7 linked regions of the Homo sapiens genome follow. The protein of the gene in region 6 purifies or fractionates together with the protein of the main gene of each other region. This does not show direct contact. Each region holds a gene or a part of one and is shown on either strand. Other genes may lie near its edges. The genes, in order: MTCL1, EIF4B, SLC25A3, ARHGDIB, TWNK, ZBTB1 and SPTAN1.

Region 1 (3,500 bases), on a different chromosome or scaffold from region 6:
ATACAAGCAATAATCACTAAATGTTCAACACTAAGTCAATATCTGTATATGTATATGTACATGTATATCCACACATACAAATATACAGTGACTCTGGCCATTCTGTTCATGGAAAGAATGGTTTGTGATTGCTTTTCTTTCCAGAAAGCCTGCCAAAGTCATTAATGCCTGGGATTATCGGCAACTAAGACAAAAGTTTTTAAAATGCAATATAGCCCTAAGATGCAAGATACAGCTTCCAGGTATAAAATGTCTCTAGCTTTCAGACTTTGCAACTGGAGAGCCCACATCCACCCTAATGTTAAATGCTGCATTTTCATACAGATGTTACAGGCTATGAAAACTGTTCAAGGGCTAGATGCACCCACACCTCCACATCATTGAGCAGACCAGATGTAAATAGCAATATTTTTTGGCACAAATAATCACCAACATTAGTTGTACTGCAAATAAAATTAGGGGCCGGGTGCGGTGGCTCACGCCTGTAATCCCAGCACTTTGGGAGGCCGAGGCGGGCGGATCACAAGGTCAGGAGATCAAGACCATCCTGGCTAACACAGTGAAACCCTGTCTCTACTAAAAATAAAAAAAATTAGCCAGGCGTGGTGGCGGGCACCTGTAGTCCCAGCTACTCGGGAGGCTGAGGCAGAAGAATGGCGTGAACCCGGGAGGTGGAGCTTGCAGTGAGTGGAAATCGCGCCACTGCACTCCAGCCTGGGCGATGGAGTGAGACTCCACCTCAAAAAAAAAAGAGAAAAGAAAATTAGGGAGAGATCATATGATATGGTTTGGCTGTGTCCCCACTCAAATCTCATCTTGAACTGTAGCTCCCATAATCCTCACGTGTCACAGGAGGGACCCAGTGGGAGGTAACTGAATCACGGGGGCGGGTTTCTCCTCTGCTGCTCGTGACAGTGAGTAAGTCTCAAGAGAGATCTAATGGTTTTATAAACGGCAGTTTCCCTGCACACGTTCTTACGTGCCTCCATGTAATATGTGTCTTTGCTCCTCCTTTGTCTTCCACCATGATTGTGAGGCCTCCCCAGCCATGTGGAACTGTGAGTCCATTAAACCCTTTTTTCTTTATAAATTACCCAGTCTAGTGTTTCACAGAAGTATAAAAATGGACCAATGCACCATAACGGCATGTATTTAAATCACTGCTCTTATAATTCATATTTTACCTAAATTTACAGAACAGGCGTCGTTTATTAAGCACCTCACCCTCATTACTAACCCTACAATAACCCTGTCAGGAACACATTATGCAGTTGATAGACAAAAAAACAAAACTGAGGCTAGTTACCTGTGTCCAAAGCTTCACATCTAGTAAATTGAAGCCACACTGCAAACCCAGGCCTGTCTGCTTTCAATCACACACTCTTTCGAGTAAATACCATAAATTATTTGCTTCAACCTGGACAAATGAAACAATAACAGACCTTCAATTGTACTTTTAAAAGTCCACCATCAGTGTAAAACAAAAAAAGCAGCCTAACATTTACAGCTCGACAAGTGACGACACAAAGCATATCCATTAGGGCAACTGGTTCTTAGGAAGACACTGCAACGTGCGGTAAAGATATCCGTGCCCCTTCCCCGCTTTTTTTAAAGAGACAGAGTCTCACTCTGTGACCCAACCTGGAGCGCAGTGGTGCAGCCATGGCTCACTGCCACCTTGAGCTCCTGGGCTCAAGTGATCTTCCTGCCTCAGCCTCCTGAGTAGCTGGGATTACAAGCACATGCCACCATGCCTGGCTAATACTCCCATCTTTAAAACGAGGAAACTGAGATTCTAAAAGTATAAATGGCTTTCCACCATTATTGGTCTGCTGCAGCAATAGGACCAGGGCCAGTGTTTCAACTCTTCCCAGAGAGCCTAGAAAAAAGTAATTTTCAGGTTCAGTGAAAAGAAGTTAAAGACAAGCAAATTATAAACCATGTAAGCTGGCAGCAGCCATCTGAAAAGCAAAAACTATGATTACTGGAATTAGGGTCATGATGGATAGTGATTTTCAAACTAACATTACATTAATTTTCTGACGGCATGCTCCAATTTAGAAAACTGTATTGCAGAACCTTAATGACATCTGCCAACTAAAAATTTAAGTAAACCAAATCGAGCAGAGCATATGATGTTTCTGACAGGTGTAATTTAGAGATAGTACATAAAATTGGAAAATCGCTGTTGTCTTTTTATACACGGAAATAAGAAAAAGCTGTCCTTAATAGTTTTTTACTGAATTAACATCAAGTCTGGAGGATACTTAAGTATTAAATCATTATCTCATTGAAAAGCTAGTTTTAATTAAATACCTTTTTAAAGTTTTGTATATAAAACGAAATCTTGAAGTACTGTGAAGTCCAGTCGACTATTCCCCTTTGCCTGTGGCTGACAAATCAAGCCTTATCATGTATCTCAAATTAGAGGAATAATGAGGTACCAGGTGTGCACTAGAGTAAACCAAGATTAAAATTATATGTTTTAATGAAAACCTCTAAAAGGATAGTTTTATCCATGAATATATAATAAAAGTCAAATCCATGGCTTCTTAGTATAAGTGATGAAAACTCTTAATCATGTTAATAACTATATGAAAATCTTAATCTCTTTTAAATACCCAAAATCAGTAACTATCTCTATTTTAGCACCTCCTCTTTAAATAGACCCAGTTTGGATGGTAGAAGGAGTCCTCTGGCTACTGCTGCAATAATTCTATCTTCTGGGCAGACAGAAACTACTGTCTTTTGTAACATACGAATAATCCACCTCATTTCCCTCCAGACAAGGGAAATGTTCTCCAAGAGTCCCAGCTGTAACTAAGGAGGTGCAGGGCGACTCCCACTGTCTACCAGGTGATGGTCCAGCCAGCAGCTGGTGGCCGCAGCCCTTGTCTACATTAACTGCCACTGAAAATGATCATAGCCACTCTTTCAGTGGCTGAATACAGAGTGGGTATGGACAGCGAATGTCAGGAAAGAATGGGGAATACTGTCCATGTTAACCCTTCTGAAAGAGAAAGGAGGAGGAGGCGGGGAGCAAGGAGGCGCTGAGACACCTCAGCTACAGAGCACTGCTTGCGCTCCTCTCCAAGTGCCCCTCCACCCCCAGGCCACACTGAGCACCCGGCATCTGGGCAGCCCAGCTGCCAAATGTCAAAAACCAGGTCAGGGCCTGAAACTCAAAAGGCTAACTCCAATGAGAAGCAGGATGGTAAGCTTGGATCAGCAGTGAGACACTGCAACCTATAAAACCAAAACTCAACCTCTCCCTTAGGAAATCATTCCTCTCCAAGAAGCCAATTTTCTCTGCCCTTGTATCTAGCACCAACTTGTTTTCTTTTAACAGAAAAATATTTCCTATGAAATAACTGAGAAAGCAAAGCAAAGCAAAAAGAAACAGCTCTTCCCACCCCAATCCTCACCCACCCTGCAGGAGGTCAGCATGGCAAGAGGACACTATTTGGGGGTGGGGGAGGTGTGGGGTTATGGCTGCTAAA
Region 2 (3,500 bases), on a different chromosome or scaffold from region 6:
AGAAAGATTATTCACCAATACTCAGGTATTTACAGAGTTGTACAATGCAATATTGTAAAACATTATTTAGAAAGAAATAACATGGACGCTCCTCAAATGGTTAAATTATGGCATTTCCATGAAGGGGTACTATGCAGACATAAATAAGAAATTTAAAAGTTGCAGAATACCTATTATGTGTAAACACATGTTTACGTACGGAAAAGGGTCTGAGTGTTTGAGATACACCCTGGAGAGTATGTTTGGAGTGTGGGGGCAACCTTTTATTTTCTACTATATTCACTTATCATTTGAGATCTTTAATTTTGTAACTACTTCTATTCAGTTACTACTTTCACTGCTCTTTGGATAAAAAAGATCAATAAAAATTCGTATCTCACATAACATATTCAGTATGGCAGTTTTGAAGACTGTTTTGACACTTGTAAACAAACCATATAGGGAAGGAATCACAACTGTCTTTTTTTTTTTTTTTTTGAGACAGAGTCTTGCTCTTGTTGTCCAGGCTGGAGTGCAATGGTGCCATCTCGGCTCACTGCAACCCCTGCCTCCTGGGTTCAAGCAATTCTCCTGCCTCAGCCTCCCGAATACTTGGGATTACAGGCACCCGCCACCATGCCCAGCTAATTTTTTGTGTTTTTAGTAGAGACGGGGTTTCACCATGTTGGCCAGGCTGGTCTTGAACTCCTAACCTCAGGTGATCCTCCTGCCTCGGCCTCCGAAAGTGCTGGGATTACGGTGTGAACCGCCACACCCGGCCCCATTTTTTTTTTTTGAGACAGGGTCTTGCTCTGTTGTCCAGGCTGTAGTGCAGTGGTGTGGCCACGGCTATCTGAAGCCTCAACCCTCCCATGCTCATGTGATCCTCCCACAGCCTCCTCAATAGCTGGGACCACAGAGGCACACTACCACGCCCAGCTGATTTTTAAAAAGTTTTTTAATTCCCTATGTTGCCCAGGCTGGTCTCAAGTATCCTGGAGGATCCCAGGCTCAAGTGATCCTCCTGCCTCAGCCTCCCAAAATGCTGGGATTACAGGTATGAGCCATGGTGCCTGGCCACAACTATCAATTTACAGAAAAGGAAACTAAGTCTCAGAGAGGTTAAGTGAAACACCAGATGTCTGTAAAGTTACAGAGACATTAGATGGCTAGGCTGAAGATAAAACCTAAGTTTTTTTCATACGAAGTCTAAGGCTCTTTCTATATACCAAGGTATCCTTGCATCTCAGCAGCTTATTCTATGTCAGGTTATCAAAACCACAGTAAAACGTACTGCTATTTGAAAGTGTTCAAATGTTAACAGTCATATTCCCTAGATCTCTCTGCCCTCTAGAAAAAATGTCCTCCTCTACTATAACAACACTGCATATGAGGATGTAATGCTAAAAGGAAAACACACGAAAACCCTAATAACCAACACATTTAAGTGTTTCCCACAGTTATGGAATATTTAGTAATCTCCAAATGGCTCAACTTAGTGAACTGACACTGCTCTTTCTTTGTGGTCCTCAGAACTTCCGAGAAGTCACCACCAATCAAGAGCTGATTCAGAAGAGCAGAGGGACTCAGTGAAGTTCCAGAACTGGCCTGATAGCAGCCACTACATGATTAAGAAAAAAACAAGCAGCTTTGTTGTAAAAAAGATTGGCTTCATGGTTTTTATAATCATGAATTTCTCCTCCATGTTCCAATTGTCACCTGATTTTTAATCCAAGAATATCAAACTTGATGTACCCCTTTGTTTAACTGAAGGTTGCTTTCTCACTTGGTATCCCTTTCTTTCAAAATTTAACTTTCAGGAAATAAAGGTAACCAGTTTGCTATGAATGTTAACACATAGCCTTCTGGACACAATTAGAACCTGAAGTATTACGGTCTCAATGTGCAAACCAGATGAACCCGGCTAAAATAATCAAAGTTGACCACGAACATGGTATTTTCTGTATCTCTCAAGTGACTTAATATTAATCCAGCTCCAAAAGTATTGTTTATGATCAACCAGATCACATTTTGAATCCATCCTACGCTTTTTTTTTTTTTTTTGAGACGGAGTCTCGCTTTGTCATACAGGCTGGAGTGCAGTGGCGCGATCTCAGTTCACTGCAACCTCCGCCTCCCAGGTTCAAGCAATTTCTCCTGCCTCAGCCTCCCAAGTGGCTGGGACTACAGGCGCGTGCCACCACGCCAGGCTAATTTTTTTTTTTTTTTTAGTTTCACAGTGTTAGCCAGGATGGTCTTGATCTCCTGACCTCGTGATTAGCCTCCCAAAGTGCTGGGATTACAGACGTGAGCCAACGCGCCCGGCCTGCTTTTTCTTTTTTCTTTTTTTGCAGTGGTGCAATCGTGGCTCACTGCAGCTTTGACCTTTTGGGCTCAAGCAATTCTCCCACTGTAGCCTCTTGAGTAGCTGGGACTATAGGCATGCACCACCATGCCCAGCTAATTTTAAAATTTTTTGTAGAGGCAGGGGTCTTGCTACACTGCCCAGATTGGTCTTCAACTCCTGGCCTCAAGTGGTCCACCCGTCTCAGCCTTCCAAAGTGCTGGGATTAGATGTGAGCCACTGCACTTGGCCTTATTCCACAGCTTTCAAAGAATACGGTTACAGAGAGGTTGGGTCTCATAGCACTTTTATTGCTGCAGCTCATATGCAAAGGTTTTTTTTTTTTTTTAGAGGGAGTCTCACTCTTGTCCAGGCTGGAGTGCAGTGGCGCCATCTTGGCTCACTATAACCTCTGCCTCCCAGGTTCAAGTGATTCTCCTGCCTCAGCCTCCTGAGTAACTGGGATTACAGGCATGTGCCACCAAGCCTGGCTAATTTTTGTATTTTTAGTAGAGATGGGGTTTCACCATGTTGGCCAGGCTGGTCTCAAACTCCTGACCCCAAATGATCCACCCACCTCGGCCTCCCAAAATGCTGCGATTACAGGCATGAGCCACTGTGCCCAGCCTCATATGCAAAGATCTATGGGAGATTTTAATAAGCGAACACGAGTAAGACATGAGGTAAACCACTTACAGTGCGTGGGCTTATTTTAGACTTTTTCATATCATTTAATTCAAAAATAGTGTCTGGGATTAATATGATGCTAGCTACAGATCCTTACCCTCATGGGGCTTAATCTAGTACCATCAGCTAATATCCAATTATTAACCTGTCCTTCCACTGGGAGGATAAAAACAGAACTGGTGGTCAGTACAATAAGGTCAAGTTCAACAAAAGAACATTAACAATCTGAATAAGGTATCCCTTTCCTCTTTGTTCTATATACGTATCTTCTACCAAAACAGCAGAATGTGGAATTAATCTGCCCTTTAGTCCGATTTGGCTTAAATCAACTTTGTAGATCACAGTTTCTCAACTCTCACCCCTTGACTCCTTTGACAAACAAGTTTCTTCTTTAACGTTATTTGAAATTTCCAAACAAATTAAATATCATGACTAAAAAATATTAAAAGCACTTTTAAATCTTAGAATGTCTTTTCAAATCACAAGTCTC
Region 3 (3,500 bases), on a different chromosome or scaffold from region 6:
CACAAATAAAACCTATTATAACTCTTAGGAAATAAAACTTGAATCCTGATTGGCAGAACTGCCTCAGTAAGGGCTGGCTGAACTGCATACCCAAAATGTTTTAGATCTACGGTCCACTTTCACGTTGGCTGGACTAATGCGTTTCTACTGCTCCTCTTACACGTTGACTGACTTTCCTCTCAGGAAGAGGTAGAGACTATGTTCCTTTTTTCCTCAATCTGGGACTTGGTTTCTGAGACATCACTGTTGTAACCAAGAGCATGGTAAAAGTGATGTTATGTGACATTGAAGGATAAGTCCTAAAAAGCCAACTCTGCCAAGCTCTCCTGGAGCCCCAAAATACCACCTAAGTCCAGCTGCCCTGAAGCCACCATGCTAGAGATTTTCGGGAAAGACTATACCACTAATAGTGAAAAGCACAAAGAGCATCCTTTCAGCTCAGAAGTGAAAAGCTTCATGAGACTCAGAACCAGAAGAGTCTGATACTCCCGAGTTCTTCACCCACAGAAAAGCTTATCATACACCATTGATCTTTGGATGCTTTGCTAACATAGCAAGAAATAATATACAGTTGATACTGCTAAGCACCACAGCCACCACTTGGTTGGGTTCAGAAGACATCCTACTTTACCTTTTTAAAGTTTGGTCCAAATTTGTACCTACAACTTTTCCTTTTTTCCTGCAGCACAGGTAAAATGTTGGAACCTTTAACAAGTTCAGGCAATGATGATATAAAGAAGTTAACATGCAACTAGCTGCACTGGCTTCTAAATTGAGTTCACTGACCTTACCATGAGTTTGTAGTAACATTTCTCTCCAATCTCTGAAAAAGTTTTTCTCTCCAGGCCATCTGTACGCTTTACGTAGGGACTGTTAACCAACCCACGTATTACACATAAGGACTCTAGGTAAAATCTAGTGTTTGAAAAACAGCATGTTATATATTACACTAGGTTTTTCGTTTTTTTTCCAGTGGTGGGCTGTCATTACAAAAGATTGAACTTTTATACACTTCCTAATCAAACTTAAGGGGAATCTAAACACAAAAACTAATTCACTTTCTAGGAGCTCTTTAAAAATGGGCTTAAACCTACAATCCAATCTCGTATCTAAGTATGATGGAATGCTTTTTCCCCAGTGGCATTCATATAGTTCAGCTGTCAAGCAGTACCTTTCTTAAAATACCAGACTGAAAATAGTTCAATTTTCTGTAAAAAGTCAGAGCCGGGCACGGTGGCTCATGCCTATAATCCCAGCAGTTTGGGAGGCTGAGGCGGGCGGATCACCTGAGGTTGGAAGTTCGAGACCAGCCTGACCAACACAGGGAAACCCCGTCTCTACTAAAAATACAAAATTAGCTGGGCGTGGTGGCACATGCCTGAAATCCCAGCTACTTGGGAGGCTGAGGCAGAACAATCGCTTGAACCTGGGAGGCAGAGGTTGCCGTGAGGCGAGATCGCGACACTACACTCGTCTGGGCAACAAGAGTGAAACTCCGTCTCAAAAAAAAAAAAAGTCAGATCTGTGTAAAGAGAATTAGTGTACCTGAAAATTGTTTTCAGCTGTCAATCACTTTGGTCCTTTACTGTCATTCTAAGAATCAGCCTAATTTGGTTTACCTTGTCTTACAAATAAGGATTAGCAAACTCACCAACATAAAAAAGGTGTAGTACATGCTGCAAAAATGTAAGTATACACTGACATTTACTTGCCAAAATAACCACAAATGACTACACATATTTAACTATAATTAAATCAAGTTTTTAGAAATTTAAAGTCTGCTTCCCTAGAAATACAGGAACTTTGTGTGATAAAACTTGAGACATATGACAATTTCTGAATAGCAACTGGAATATTCAACCAACAATGGTCATGGTCAGTTTTGTATTTTTTCCTTAACTTATATACTTCATTCTTTCCAACTATTTTAAAGCTAAATCTTTTTTAAAAAAGTTTTAAAAATAAGTCACAGGCAAATCATGAAGAGTTGGGTTTATTTCAACAGTAAATCTGAAACTCTTGCCTTAAGCAAGAGTACTACAGTAATTATATCAGGAATAGACAATTTCCTACACTGTCAAATATATAAAAGTTCCTTTTGCACTTTCTTCAACACTGATCAACAAGCAGATTCAGTCCACATTTGCTTTGATCTAACTACTGAGTTAACCCAAGCTTCTTCTTCAGAGACTCTGGCATCTCGGGTGGAGGAGGGCGAGGAAGTCTGAAGTAGACCTTCACGGAGTCATAGATAAACCACTGTAGTGCAGTCAGGGTACCAATCATGATGATACGGGCAAACAGTCCCTTCCATACACCTGGTTCAAACAGGAAAAGCAAATGAAAAAAATGCAACATATCCAAAACTGTTGTTCTTTCTTTCAAGAAAAAAACATCATCCTACCTTTAAATCCAAGTCTCTTGAGGACCAGAGAAGCACTGCTACCTTTTTCTTTATTCAACACAGATACCACAGAATCAGCAGGGTGAGAAACAATTGCACAAAAGACTCCAGCTGAAAAAAGATAAAGGATCCCATACAGTGCCAGTTAAAAACAAAACTTCACAGAGCCAATAATCATTTTTATGATTTTAAAATAATATTTTTCTAGTTCTAAAATAAAAATCAGACTCAGGGTGACACGGGTACAGTTATCAAGCTGTCTATCCTATGTAAAACGGAACAATCTTTTAAAGTTTTTCAGATTTTATTCAACACTTTCTGTATAAAATTCTTAATAAACAACAACAAAAAAATGGTGCAACAGTAAGATCAATACATTCCCAAGCCTAATAATGACATCCCATGAAACAGCCCTTTTAGGAACTAGTTAGCAAGTATTTATGAATCCTAAAAAGCATATAAAATGTTATGGGAAGATAAAACTGCTTTATAGGCCAGGCACATCACCTGAGGTCAGGAGTTTGAGACCAGACTCATCAACATGGTGAAACCCCATCTTTACAAAAATCAGGCCAGGCGCGGTGGCTCACGCCTGTAATCCCAGCACTTTGGGAGGCCAAGGCAGGCAGATCACCTGGGGCCAGGAGTTTGAGACCAGCCTGGCCAACATAGTGAAACCGTCTCTACTAAAAATACTAAAAATTAGCCGGGCGTAGTGGCAGACGCCTGCAATCCCAGCTACTCAGGAGGCTGAGACAGGAGAATCGCTTGAACCCAGGAGGCGGAGGCTGCAGTGAGCCAAGATTGCACCACTGCACTCCAGCCTGGGCAACAAGGGTAAAACTCCATCTCAAAAAAAAACAAAAAACAAAAACAAAAATCAGCCGGGCATGGCGGTGCATGCCCGTCCCAGCTACTTGGGAGGCTGCGGCAGAAGAATCACTTGAACCCAGGAGGAGGAGGTTGCAGTGAGCTATTATCATGCCACTGCACTCCAGCCTGGGCAACAGAGCGAGACTATGCCTCAGGGAAACCAAAAAAACAAAAACACTGCTTTATAACCTTTGGAGTATTTTTCCCTCTCAAAAAACGCCAA
Region 4 (3,500 bases), on a different chromosome or scaffold from region 6:
ACACACACACACACACACACACACACACACACACACTTAATGCCTGAAATCTTACAGCTCTGTTATGAAAAACATGAGAGTTTCCCTGCCCCCAAGTTTGATGACAATGCTAAAAATACACAAGACATTACAAATAATGAGTTGTGAAGATAAATCTTTTTTTGGTCCATTTATTCTCTCATTGAGAATTATATTACTGGTCAAATGAAGAGGTTATTAAAGAATATGCCCCTTACCCCTCAAATAAAACATATAAGAAAAATAGTATTTAGGAGTGTCAGCTATTTGTTTTTATAGATTTGGTGATGTTTGTGGCATTTTCTAGCTTTTAAAATTCTACTTGTTTTTATTCATTTTATCACTTTAAGAAAATGTTCACCTTTGTGTTTACTCTTGTATTTTCATTTGCAATTTCATACTATTTTTCTTAAGGAATATCACTGAAGTTATAAAAGCTTCAGGTTCCATAAAACCAGGATCTGTCCCAAATTCCTGTACCCTGATTAAGGAGGTAATCACTCTCTATGCTTTTCTTCATGCATAGCAGCTTGTTAGTGACAGAAAACCCAATTTGGTTTTCCTCTGCTGGGAAAGGGGACAGAGACCAAGTTTTCCTTGCAATACTACCAGGTCCTGCTGAAGAGAACAGATTTCTTTAGCGCTAATTCAGACCTTATCTTGCAAACTGGCAGCTGTACCTGGTAATATTAGGAAGACTCTGAGTTCTGGTGAGAGAGCGTGAGTTTCTCTCCTGGAGAGATGTCAGCATGTCGGGGTAGCTGAATGTGTGTGTGTGCCTGCTCTAATGATTTCAGTTGAACAGGAAGTGTGCCTTCTCAGCCTCTGATTTCCTCCCTCTGACAAAAAAGCCCATATAAGGTAAAGACTGGCTGTGTCCTGTGAGAGGGGAACTACTCTGCTGCTAACTAAGCCAACTGTTCTAGACTTGTGCTTTGTCTGTCTCACAAGAGTCCAATTTTTTCATTTGGTAACTATTTTTTTTTTCCACTAAAAACTTGCCTTTGAAGGCCCCAATCTCCTGGCTCCGTGCTTCTCCTCTCATATCCCCTCTGATGCCCATTTCCTCCACAATAACCCCCTTCCCAGTCTCTCTCCTCCTCAAGCCCTAAGTCTCAGGGAAAGGCTTGACCCTTAGTTACAATAAGGTGAAAGAAAATAACATCTTAATTTGTACGCCTTTAGTAGGAGACGTTGTTTATTTAACAAGAATCAGAGTTTCAAGCTAAAACAATTCAATCTATAGCAGTGGAATTTCTAGTATAATTCCGGATTGCTTCTCACCTTCCAGTAAGTTTTGTAGTGGATAGAAGATCAATACTTTGATGTTTAGACTGTATAAACCTTATAACTTCAGAAGCACACAATTTGTTTCTTAATATTTCCATCAGCAGTCTTTATTGCATAAATAACAATTCTCTTACTATCATGTGGAGACAAAAATCTGTAAATATATCAAATGTGTATGCCTGCACTCTCTTCAATTAAATAGAGATAAAGATTGGGCTTTTCATGAAACATGGTAAATACTGTGCACTCTAAGAGCAATGATTTGTTAACTGGTCCTAGCATATATATCTCTCTGATTCACCAGTTTTCTTCTGTTGGAACAGGAGACAGAGACCAAGTTTTCTTTGTGATATCTTAGGCCCCCTTTGAACAGTACAGATGTGTCTACATACCAGTAAGGTCCATGGTGATTGGTCCCGGGGCACTCTCACAAACCAGGGTGAGCCGGGTGACAACGACATTGGGGGCTTTCGGATCTGCAGGATCGAAAGGGAATGTAAGTACCAAGAAGAGACATGTGTATAGTGGGTGTGTGCATTTCAAGTGGGAGACAGAGAGTATGAAAATAAAAGTGATCTTTCTATCTGGAGTAGAAATAGAAATGGATGTGGCAGGTTTGCTATGCTTGGTCTTGATGGCCTTGTAAATTACAGCAAAGTTATTTCTGCTTTAGGCACTTGTAGGTCCATCTAATTATTGACATCCAACATTTCCTGAATGGCTATGGGTCAGGTACTCTGCTAATTGGGCACTGTCCATTTATATCTCTGGGCCATGTCTTGTTCTGCCGCGGTGTATGTGGAAGAGATGAACGGTTAGGTAAGGACTGAGAAAGAGAGAAAATGGAGAGAGAGAAATACAATTCTAAGTGGTAGCCTGGAATTCTTTCTAAATCCCCTCTGTGTGTTATGTGTGCCTATCTCACTGCTGACTTGCATCTTATCTCTTAAGAAGACTTAATTATACAGTTCATAACTTTAATCAGCATATATAAATTGTGCCTCGCTCACTTTTTCCTGGAAGCAGTTGGTCCTCTTCCCTTTGCTGCTGCTCCTGAGCAGCCAAAATGTCTTCTTCCCTCTCAGCGATCTTCCACCCACCCTGTTCTCTGTACACACATACCTGTCACCACAGGACCATCTCCCAGCAGCGTTTTCTTGTACTTAATTAGACTCTCATCATCTTTGTCCATTTCCTGCAGCTCTTTCAGGGACTTCTGTGGTGGAGGCTTATAATTGAGCTTGCTGTCCAGCTCATCATCGTCATCCTCCTCCACATGTGGCTCTGGGGCTTTTTCAGTCATTCTGATCTATTTCTGGGAGACAGAATGACAGCCCGTTAGTCAACAAGTCATGAATATAAAAGATGTTAGTGGGGCTGCTGTTAGCAGCCTCCTTACCCTCATGGACTTCTCTGATCATCAGTCACTTTCCTGATTGTTTTCCTAATTCAATCTCATTAAATTCTATGAAATAATAATCTAATGTATTCTAGTAATTTCTCTGACCTGCCTGAATTTCTCTGTACCATTGTAGTATCTTCTATTCACTGAACAAAACTGACAAGAAAGAAATCACTCATATGTGAATAACGTACTACGAGTGAAGCAACATGGCACAAAGACTCCTGAACAAATGAAGCAAAAGCCCAGTCAAAAAGCTGTAGGAGTTATCACAGTCCTCCAAATCCAGCCAGCCTGGCTAGCGTCAAAGCTTGCAGCATGCACAGTCTGAGTGATAATGGTGGAGAGAGGCAGGAGAGAGAAGAGAGAGGTGGAGTACTTGCCAGAGAAATGGTTGGCTCCTCCCCATCAATGGAATCTGTCCCTGAACTCCAGCAATGCCTCAAAGATGACTCATGACGAACCGTTGACCTTTATGATACCTGCCTCAGGTGCCTGCATGGTTCACACCCAACACTGCTAATCACCCCTCAAGGGTGGGTACTAGGTTTGCTGTTTTTCTTGAATTCCCCCTAAAACACTTGCATAGTTCTGGCACTTTATACAATTTCCTTGATTGATATATAAGGTTTTATATCTAAAGATATTCTATTCTTTTTAAATGCCACAAAAATAGCAAAGGACAGTTTAAATTCCTCCAGACAAAATCGTAAGTACAAATTTGCCCTTAGCATTTGTCCATCCATTTCCCTTTTCTGGATCCACTTCCCTTTCAGTCTCTCCCCTTCTC
Region 5 (2,181 bases), on a different chromosome or scaffold from region 6:
TGAGAAATGTACGTGGTGGAGGATGGGGGGAGAATGGGGCCTAGTTTCTGCATTTTTCACAAGTCCCCAGGAGTTCTGGCACGCATTAGCATATGAGAAACACGGAGAGGGTACAGGAGGGAGATGGATGGGGGTGGACAGAATATGTTGAGTCTAAGTCCACTTGAGAGGTGAGTGGCTCACATCACAGAGGAATGGCCAGTCAGGCAGGGCACTGGGCTCATGTGGCCCAGTGATGAGTACCTGTGCCAGGAATCACTCGAGATCCTCAGGGAAGTTAGGTATGAGGACAGATCATCTTGTCTTCCCTAGGCCAAGAAGAGATGTAAATGGAAGGTGGGGTGTGAAGGCCCTTTAATGTCCCTGCTTCCTTGGAAGCCCACCGCTCAAAGGCTGCAAGCAGTGGGAGGGGACCCGTCCATTCCCAATCCCGAAAGGGAAATTCAGCTACGGACTGGGGAGACACCTGGTGGATGAATAAGAAAAAGCACAGAAACAAAGGCAATGGAAAAATTTTTTAGTAAAACTGGAAAAGGCTCTATAAAATGTCCTGACTCCAGCAGTCTTGAGGCAGCACACAATGGCATCAGTGTCTAGGTGGCAGGCACTCCGGGCTGACAGCTTCCTTCTATGGCTCTATGACCAAGCAACCCAGCCCGAGGCAGCTCCCACCAGTGAGGCCCTGATATTGCAGGGCTAAGCACCTAGGATCCAATTCTAGTACATGCCACCTCATGCTAGGCTCTACAAAGTGGGGAGCAGAGGAGCTTGGTACCCACTGTATCACCCTTTGACTTTGAAAGCCTAGGCTGGAGTTTCGCATGAAGTCCCCGATTCCCCTCCAGGTTCATGCGGCCTGACCTCACTGCCTTGAATCTGACCTGCTCATTCCTACCTCAGGGCTTGGATTTCCTTTTCTCTCTGCCTGGGTCCCCTTCGCCGGATGTTCACGTGGCTCTCTCCTTCTAGTTGTTTAGGCCCCAGCTCACATGCCCTCGGCTCAGAGACACCTTTTCAGACCACTTATCTACACTAGCCTGCCAGCACTCTATCGCATTTCTATTTTCTTTACAGCATTTTTCACTAAAACTAGGTTTTCTGCTAATTTGTTCATTGCTTGCTTGTCTCTTCCGCCAGAATGCATGCAGGCAGGGACTTTATCTCTCTTTTCAGTGCTGTATATACAGGACCTCAAACAAAGCCTGAGCAACACAGTAGTTTCTCAGTAGTCTGCTACATTGAATTTTCTCACTATGGAAACCTGCTCTAGGTTAGGCCCCTCAGACTGAGAAGGGCACACAGCTCAGGACCACAGGATAGAGGAGCCCTTGCAGAGTTTTATGCTCCAGCCTATCCTATCAGGCTCATTTCAGTGACCAGCTCTGCACGGCCTTCACTTTGAACGCTTGGAGGTGTCTGGCTGGTCGGGAGTGGGGGCCTGGCCTGAGCAAATCTCAGAGTTCTGTGTCGTAGCCCCCTTTTTGCCAGAAGAGGGCTTTTTGGCCACTGGTCCAGTGTCATCCTTGATCTTCTTGAGCCGGGCCTTGTTCTTTGGTGGAATGGAGAAGGTGAGGGAGTTCTTGTTGAACTCAAGCGGGAAGACACCTACATCTCCATCAAAGCGGTTCTTGGACACCTGCAGATACCGTTTCCCTGGCCCGGTTACCAGCTTCCTGTCCTGCAGGATCAGAACATTGTCTGCTTCCTGGCTTGCCTGGGGAACAGGGGGCAGAAGGAGGAAAGCAGGAGTAAGAGGACATGAGCAAAGCAGAAAGGGGGGCTGACAGGGCAGGGAGGAGTGATAAGAATGGGGAGAGGGGCTGGGTACAATGGCTCACGCCTGTAATCCCAGAACTTTGGGAGGCCGAGTCGAGTGGATCACGATGTCAGGAAATCAAGACCATCCTGGCTAACACGGTGAAACCCCATCTCTACTAAAAATACAAAAAATTAGCTGGGCATGGTGGCATGCACCTATAGTCCCAGCTTCTTGGGAGGCTGAGGCAGGAGAATCGCTTGAATCCGGGAGGCGGAGGTTGCAGTGAGCCAAGATTGTGCCACTGCACTCCAGCCTGGGCAACAGAGCGAGACTCCGTCTCAAAAAAGAAAAAAAAAAAGAGAAAGAATGGGAGAGGGAAAAGTACTTCCCCCCATGACCAAAGCTCTTTGAACTACTGACCA
Region 6 (3,682 bases):
GGTTCCTATCAGTAATATACATACCACATTTCATTTTAAGTTGGATTTCAAATTTAATTACTTGATAAACTATTGTATCTAAGTAAGGGTAAGATGAATCACTTTTCCTGCTTTTGCTGTTAAATTTTTAATTTTTGTGTGTATTCTACCCGTCCCCTGCCTACTTCCCGTTATTTGAATTCTGCACTTGGTTCCTGTGCTGTTCCTATCCTTACTTAACACTTCAACATATCCCCACAAATCTGAGCTCACATGGTGCTCTAATGCTTTCAACTAAATCTGTACTCACCAGTATGTCTCTCAGTTCTTTTGGCAACTTGTTCTTTTATGTAAATTGTATACAAAATATGATTTGCATATTTTAAATATGATGTGAACAAAAAGAGCAATGCTATTAGTGTTCAGAATCACAAATTTATATTTTTAAAATTAGGAGTTAATTAAAATCCCTTTCATTATGAAAAGGGTACTACATTGCAAGTAATTCACATTAAAAGGCATTCTATTCAATAGATGTGTTTATTGGTGGGTCAGTTTTGCCAATGTTTTAATTCACATGTAATTATGTAGACCCTGTGTCAGCAACAACTAACAATACTACTACTTTAACTGAAAAAATGATAAACTGTTTCCATTGATATACTCTGTGATTATTTTATAATCCTCAAGTTTTATAGTCTTTTACAGAAAAAAATGATAATAAAATATGGCGATAAACTGCAATTTGCCACATTTCCTCCAAATCTTAGACAGTATAAAACACAAGACATTTTTTTGTGCACTCTACTTTTATAGAACAACCAGGTTTATAATTGATCTCTTTATTTTATTAGATTTATCAATATACATGGAAGCTTTCTCAAATCTCAAAGTTCCAGAAGTATGTATTGTAAAAAATCATCTTTTCCTTTAGAGGTCATATTCTTAGAGAGCTATTAAAGTCTATTTATAAACAAAAATAATTGATAAGCTAACACACTTTAGAAATCAGAATATTTTAAATTAAAATATTTTTAATGAATACAAGATATGTCTTTTTAATTAACTATCATAGTTAAATTTAATATCACAAAACAAAATGGCTTATCCCCACTAATTTTTCAAGTGAGGTAAAGCCACTGGAATTTACACTTAATATAAGTTTTAAATGTGATAATTAAATGATAATATTTTATCAATTATAGGAAATATTCATTTATAAAAATTTCCTCAGGTTCATCAATCTTTTTAGGCCAAGTTTGAGCCCATGTCAACCTTAAAGGTTAGATTCAGTGCACCTAACTTGCCTAATAAGCTTGTCAATTTAAGAATATGAATTTCATTAATAAGGGGGAATAAAGAGTAGTTAACTCACTAAAAGCAAACGGGATAGTTTCAAATAATTACTTAAGGAATTTTTAAAATTTAAACAGAAATGGCCAATGATTCTGGGTTTAAAATTTCACAGGATAACCTTAAAAAAAAAAAAACACATAGAAATAGTGAAGTCATCACCTTATTGATGAAAAACTAAAGTTTAATAGTCATTGAATGGGTAACAACCACTTGTAGTCTACATTTAAAAATTTTAATCATAGCTAAGAAAAACTAAAAACAAATAATTCTATTAAGAAACAACAAAAATGATAAACATTTAATACCTAAATGTAGATACTTAAAATCCTAAACAAAAATATTAAAGTTAAAAGGGCCTTGAAATTTGTTTCTAACAAATCATCTTATATAATCAATTCCTAAATAGCTCATATCCTTTGCTTTGGTGTTTTATCTGCTATCATCTAAACATTAGTACAGTAGAAAATCACTCAGGTTCTTTTCAAATGCTTGGCATTATAATGTGATCTCATATCTTTCCTCAAATTAAATTTTGCTCCACATATTCCACATGTATACAGATGAACATCCATGTGCTGCTCCAACTGTTCATTATTTGGGAATATCTGAAAGCAGACCTGGCATATAGTCTCACCAGCAGATAAATGAGAAATCATATGCCGTACATGGTCATGTTTTCTGAAGTTTCCTTGATCACAAATGGAACAGACATACCTGGCCATGCCTTTGTGCATATCATTGTGCAGTCGCAACTGACGCTCTCTTAAAAACTGCTTTCCACATGTTTGACAAACAAACTGTTTTTCCTTAGTATGAACAGTATAGTGTTCTCTTAAGTGACACCGCTGATAAAATCCTTTTCCACACAGATTACAAAAATGCTTTCGTCTGTGATCTCTTTCATTTTCTTCCATGATGGCACTCTTAAACATATCTTGATCTAAGCAGCTAGACATATGTTCAACCACTAGATTTTCAGTTTCAAAACGCTGGCCACAATTAGGACATCGAAAAGGGCAGGCAGAATGTTTAAATAACTGCTTTTTTTGGATACTGTTTATCTGGTAATGATTGTCCCTAAAATCATCCAGCATTTCAACAAACATATCTCTTATTTCGGACTGCTCATCAGGATTCTCTTCCAAGTCCATTTTCTCCTCAGTATTTCCTAACCCATTCATGGTCAGATCTTGGGGCTCGCCACATCGTTGAGCATGTTCCTGAAGCTGCCTACCCTTTACAAGTATTTGTCCACATTTACCACATGCACAGATATTTTCAATGTGTTTGGCTAAGTAATGAGATGACAGGTCCTCCTCGGTTATTGTAAGTCCACACAGCTCACAAGATGCATTTTCAGCATCCTCTTGTACTGGACTGCTGTTGTTAGGGGGCCTCATATTCTCTAAACCACCTCTTTCATCAGCACTTACTGACATTCGAGGTTTTAGAGTTTTCCTACCACTTTTTTTTATGCTGACATCTTCTTCAACATAGTATCTATAAAATGGCTCTTCAGGTTCATCTTCTAATTCATCATTGTCAGTGGATTCATTACAGTCTTTATCAGTAACTTTAATAATGTTAAAGTCTTTCAGTTCATCTGTAGGAATATCTTCTGGCTCCATCTTAATAATAATCCTTTTCCTCTCAGCAGCTCTGCTTTTCTCTTCGCTTGCTATTTCAGACTCCACTGTGCTACTTTTTCTGCTTCCAGTGGTTGAAGCTGAATCATCAGCAGCCTGGCTTGTGTCTCCTCTGTATTTGTCCGTCTGTGCAGAAAATGTTTTGGAAGAATCTTTTTCACCAAATTCAGCTTTGATGTTACTGTCTTTTCCATCTCTAATATCTACTATTCTATGGTAAGATCTTGTGTTTTGGTATAAATGTCTGTTAGTACAGGTTAGCACATGCTCATCTAATAATTTTTCACAGCTAAAGCCAAATCCACAGCTATCACAGGTAAAACTCCGCCCAAAGCGTCTTGACACACGTTCTTTTGGAGTAGATAATTTGGACACGGAACTTTTTTTACATACATCAAATAGTGGCTCAGGAAAATTACCTAATTGTAAAGACTCTTCATCAGCCTCTCTATTATGTGGTGTATTTACCGTTGAACTTGGCTCTGCACACCACCTGTTGGCTTCATTGCCATTTCGAGCCACAGTATCTTCATACATTCTTACCCCAAATATCATTTTGCTGTTCTGTTTGCTGGAAGCAGAAGAGGAACATTTTGAACTAGAACAATCTGCATCCTGGATGTCTTCTAAACAGTCAGGAACATTGTATAGCTGTAGGTAGTTCATTGCCACTTTAAACTGCTCAAAACTGGAGGGAGCTG
Region 7 (3,500 bases), on a different chromosome or scaffold from region 6:
CACCTTATAGACTAACCACACTACTCCAAAAGATAGAGAATGGCTCTCCCCTTTTTACATAAGAAATAGAAACTCTTTGGAGTTGTAGTTCACTTTGTATCATGTTGACCATTATTTCTTGTGATTCTCTTCAGAGTGGTGATTTGCTGAGATGCTTCAAGGAACCAACCCCAGGGTAACTAGTTGGAGGAGCCAGAAGTTGTGTACAAATCCAGTCTCTTCTCTTCCTTGTTTAGGAGCAGCACCCTGAGGAGGAACTGATCAAGACTAAGCAGGATGAAGTCAATGCAGCCTGGCAGCGGCTGAAGGGCCTGGCTCTGCAGAGGCAGGGGAAGCTCTTTGGGGCAGCAGAAGTTCAGCGCTTTAACAGGTGTCAAGCCAGAGTGGGCTTTGGGGAATGGGTCTCAACCTGGAGGGGAGTTGTGAAGCACAGGGCATGTGCTGGTGAGCTGTCGAGGCTGACTAGGCCTTGGTCCCATGGGGTGTTCCTAGTTCTAGGGAGTCATCATTGCTGTGGATTAACTGGTGCCTTTGTTCTGTAGGGATGTGGATGAGACTATCAGTTGGATTAAGGAAAAGGAGCAGTTAATGGCCTCTGATGATTTTGGCCGAGACCTGGCAAGTGTTCAGGCTCTGCTTCGGAAGCACGAGGGTCTGGAGAGAGATCTTGCTGCTCTAGAAGACAAGGTGGGTTTTACAAGCAGCTGATTCTGTAAATAAGTTACCAAGGGTCAGGAGAATAGTTCTGACGGAGTTCATTTCTAGGTCAAAGCCCTGTGTGCTGAGGCTGACCGCCTGCAACAGTCCCACCCTCTGAGTGCAACACAGATTCAAGTGAAGCGAGAGGAACTGATTACAAACTGGGAGCAGATCCGCACCTTGGCGGCAGAGAGACATGCACGGCTCAATGATTCATACAGGTGCAAATAATGCTCCAGGTCTTAACCAGTATCATTTGGCTTCTTTTTTGGAAGCAGGAATAGCAGAGTTAAGGGTCTGTTCTGTGTTCTGTGAAAGTGTCAGGTATCACCTACAAATGCAAATCACTTCTTACCTATGTTCTCTCTGTTTGGAGACTGGCAACTGTATCATGTGTAGTATACGTATGGTATTTACAACTTCATAAATTCTTCTATTCTGCATCACTGCATTATGATTGATAGAATGGGAATGTCCCTTTAAGTATCTGAGTATCACATGAAATATCTTATTAAAACCAGGATTAGAAAGGAAAAGAATCCTTGCTAGCCAAGGGTTGAACCTGGGAATAACAAGGAAGTTGAAAATGTGGGACAGGATTGGGGCATTATAGTGATGGAGAGAACCTAAGTTTTAAAGGGTTGATTTCAGCCTTCTCTTGCTTTCCTTCACAGTCTAGATTGGGAAATTTTCATATTTCCCAGAATTAGAATTTATATAGTTTGTTAGACATTTGAGAACATAGAATTCAGAGCTTTAGGGAGGCCATTTTCCACCCTGGAACCTCCGCTGGAAACATAATGTCTTCCTTTGGTTTTCCCTAGGCTTCAACGCTTCCTTGCTGACTTCCGTGACCTCACCAGCTGGGTGACTGAGATGAAAGCCCTCATCAATGCAGATGAGCTTGCCAGTGATGTGGCTGGGGCTGAAGCCCTGCTAGATAGACACCAAGAGCACAAGGTAATGGTATCTCTAGAATCTTCCAGAAGTGAAGATTTTAGCTTATAATGCACCAGTTTATCAGTGTTGGGTGAGGCCTATAGTCGGCGTTGGTACCATGTTATTCACAGGTGTTTCTCATCATGAGGATTATGGTTGGTTTTGCCTTTGGAGACCTGGTCTACCTGCTTCTGATAGAGGCTTAACTGGGTTCAGTGTCAAGAGGTTCACTGTGGTCCATAAAAGCAAACAGACAAGCTCTGGCGAGATAGAAGTGCTACTACTTGGCACATTGATCCTTTGTGATGTAAAAAGTATTTGTTGGGCCAGGCACGGTGGCTTATGTCTGTAATCCCAGCACTTTGGAAGGCTGAGGCGGGTGGATCATGAGGTCAAGAGATCAAGACCATCCATGCCAACATGGTGAAACCCCATCTCTACTAAAAATGCAACAGTTAGCTGGTCATGGTGGCACGCGCCTGTAGTCCCAGCTATTCAGGAGTCTGAGGCAGGAGAATCGCTTGAACCCGGGAGGCAGAGGTTGCAGTGAGCCAAGATCACACCATTCCACTCCCGTCCGGACAACAAGAGTGTTTCACTCTGTCTCAAAGAAAAAAAAAAAAAAAAAAACCTTCTGAGAGGTTTTAATGTGCTAGATACAAAATCAATATACTGAAAGTCAAACATGTTTCTCTACACTAGCAACAGAAACATAATTTTTAAAAATACTACTTATTAGAGCAGAAAATATAAAGTACTTAGGAATAAGTCTAACAAAAGAGTGTAAGACACTTCTGGAGAAAACTATAAAACTTTGTTAAAAGGCATTAAATAAAAACTGAATAGATAGAATGATTTATCTAGTACACAGATGGAACGATCTTCTGTGAAGGTGTAAATTCCCACCAGGATATATACCGTTAATGCAGTTCCAGTCAAGTGCTCAGCAGGTATATGTGTGTGTTTCTTTTTGCAATGAGATAAGCTGATTCCAAAACTGATTTGGAAGAAAAAAATTCAAAAAAAGCTGAGACAATGTTGAAGATCATAATGGGGCCAGGGAGGGACTCGCCCTACCAGGTTCTATAAAATCATAGTAAACAAGTCCATTTGGCACAAAGAAGACAGAGCCCTGGAATGAAAGAGAGCTCAGACCCATGTGAATGTGTGGAACCTTGACAAATGACAGGTGACCTGAAAAGCCATTTGGAAAGGATTTCATCAGTGAGTGATACTCTCACATTTGATGACCTAGACTGATTATGTATTAGGAAATCTGGCCTAATCTTTCATTTTGTTTCTCATTTTAGATGTCATAGTCTGGCTTATAATGCTTATGTAAAATTCAGCACCTTGTTTTTATTTTGTAAGATGCTGGGCACAAATCATGGCTTTGTTTTTTTCTCCTGTAGGGTGAAATTGATGCCCATGAAGACAGCTTCAAATCTGCAGATGAATCTGGACAGGCACTGCTTGCTGCTGGTCACTATGCCTCAGATGAAGTGAGGGAGAAGGTAAGAGAAGAGAAATGGAGCTTTTGAGGAGCAAATTACACCTTTCACTAAGTCTCTGAAAGCTATTATTCATCCTTAAATATCCAGAGAACGCATTCACCATGATATGTGAGAAACTTTCCTTTCTCTGCAGAGGTTTAAAAAGAAGGTATATGTATAGTGTGCTGATTTCCTGAGAGACAGTCCTCCTTATCTGGGGCATGTGTGGCATGTTTCCTACTTACAGGGACTTTCTGTAGGGAGCTGAGTCTTGCATTAGGAGTTGGAGCAAAGAGGAAACAAATTTTTATAAAATGATACATAGGCCAGGTGTGGTGTGACCCCAGCACTTTCAGAGGCCAAGGCAGG

The links.
Region 1: the proteins of ZBTB1 (region 6) and MTCL1 purify together in Homo sapiens (affinity purification with mass spectrometry, with the first as the bait; one study listed by BioGRID). This does not show direct contact.
Region 2: the proteins of ZBTB1 (region 6) and EIF4B purify together in Homo sapiens (affinity purification with mass spectrometry, with the first as the bait; one study listed by BioGRID). This does not show direct contact.
Region 3: the proteins of ZBTB1 (region 6) and SLC25A3 purify together in Homo sapiens (affinity purification with mass spectrometry, with the first as the bait; one study listed by BioGRID). This does not show direct contact.
Region 4: the proteins of ZBTB1 (region 6) and ARHGDIB purify together in Homo sapiens (affinity purification with mass spectrometry, with the first as the bait; one study listed by BioGRID). This does not show direct contact.
Region 5: the proteins of ZBTB1 (region 6) and TWNK purify together in Homo sapiens (affinity purification with mass spectrometry, with the first as the bait; one study listed by BioGRID). This does not show direct contact.
Region 7: the proteins of ZBTB1 (region 6) and SPTAN1 purify together in Homo sapiens (affinity purification with mass spectrometry, with the first as the bait; one study listed by BioGRID). This does not show direct contact.

Annotation. Positions count from the first base shown.
Region 1 is NC_000018.10:8,712,056-8,715,555, reverse strand, and holds part of MTCL1 (microtubule cross-linking factor 1), read right to left. Parts: intron 1,415-3,500; exon of another isoform or gene 1,307-1,414; intron 1-1,306. UniProt on the Homo sapiens protein: Microtubule-associated factor involved in the late phase of epithelial polarization and microtubule dynamics regulation.
Region 2 is NC_000012.12:53,012,956-53,016,455, reverse strand, and holds part of EIF4B (eukaryotic translation initiation factor 4B), read right to left. Parts: intron 1-3,500. UniProt on the Homo sapiens protein: Required for the binding of mRNA to ribosomes. Functions in close association with EIF4-F and EIF4-A. Binds near the 5'-terminal cap of mRNA in presence of EIF-4F and ATP.
Region 3 is NC_000012.12:98,600,186-98,603,685, reverse strand, and holds part of SLC25A3 (solute carrier family 25 member 3 isoform b precursor), read right to left. Parts: intron 2,516-3,500; coding exon 2,405-2,515; intron 2,319-2,404; coding exon 2,158-2,318; 3' UTR 1-2,157. UniProt on the Homo sapiens protein: Inorganic ion transporter that transports phosphate or copper ions across the mitochondrial inner membrane into the matrix compartment. Mediates proton-coupled symport of phosphate ions necessary for mitochondrial oxidative phosphorylation of ADP to ATP.
Region 4 is NC_000012.12:14,948,102-14,951,601, forward strand, and holds part of ARHGDIB (rho GDP-dissociation inhibitor 2), read right to left. Parts: intron 3,051-3,500; exon of another isoform or gene 2,816-3,050; intron 2,624-2,815; 5' UTR 2,612-2,623; coding exon 2,431-2,611; intron 1,785-2,430; coding exon 1,701-1,784; intron 796-1,700; exon of another isoform or gene 699-795; intron 1-698. UniProt on the Homo sapiens protein: Regulates the GDP/GTP exchange reaction of the Rho proteins by inhibiting the dissociation of GDP from them, and the subsequent binding of GTP to them. Regulates reorganization of the actin cytoskeleton mediated by Rho family members.
Region 5 is NC_000010.11:100,992,723-100,994,903, reverse strand, and holds the end of TWNK (twinkle mtDNA helicase), read right to left. Parts: intron 1,715-2,181; coding exon 1,394-1,714; 3' UTR 501-1,393; downstream 1-500.
Region 6 is NC_000014.9:64,521,770-64,525,451, reverse strand, and holds the end of ZBTB1 (zinc finger and BTB domain-containing protein 1), read right to left. Parts: coding exon 1,806-3,682; 3' UTR 501-1,805; downstream 1-500.
Region 7 is NC_000009.12:128,576,587-128,580,086, forward strand, and holds part of SPTAN1 (spectrin alpha chain, non-erythrocytic 1), read left to right. Parts: intron 1-236; coding exon 237-370; intron 371-542; coding exon 543-687; intron 688-765; coding exon 766-920; intron 921-1,523; coding exon 1,524-1,659; intron 1,660-3,050; coding exon 3,051-3,152; intron 3,153-3,500. UniProt on the Homo sapiens protein: Fodrin, which seems to be involved in secretion, interacts with calmodulin in a calcium-dependent manner and is thus candidate for the calcium-dependent movement of the cytoskeleton at the membrane.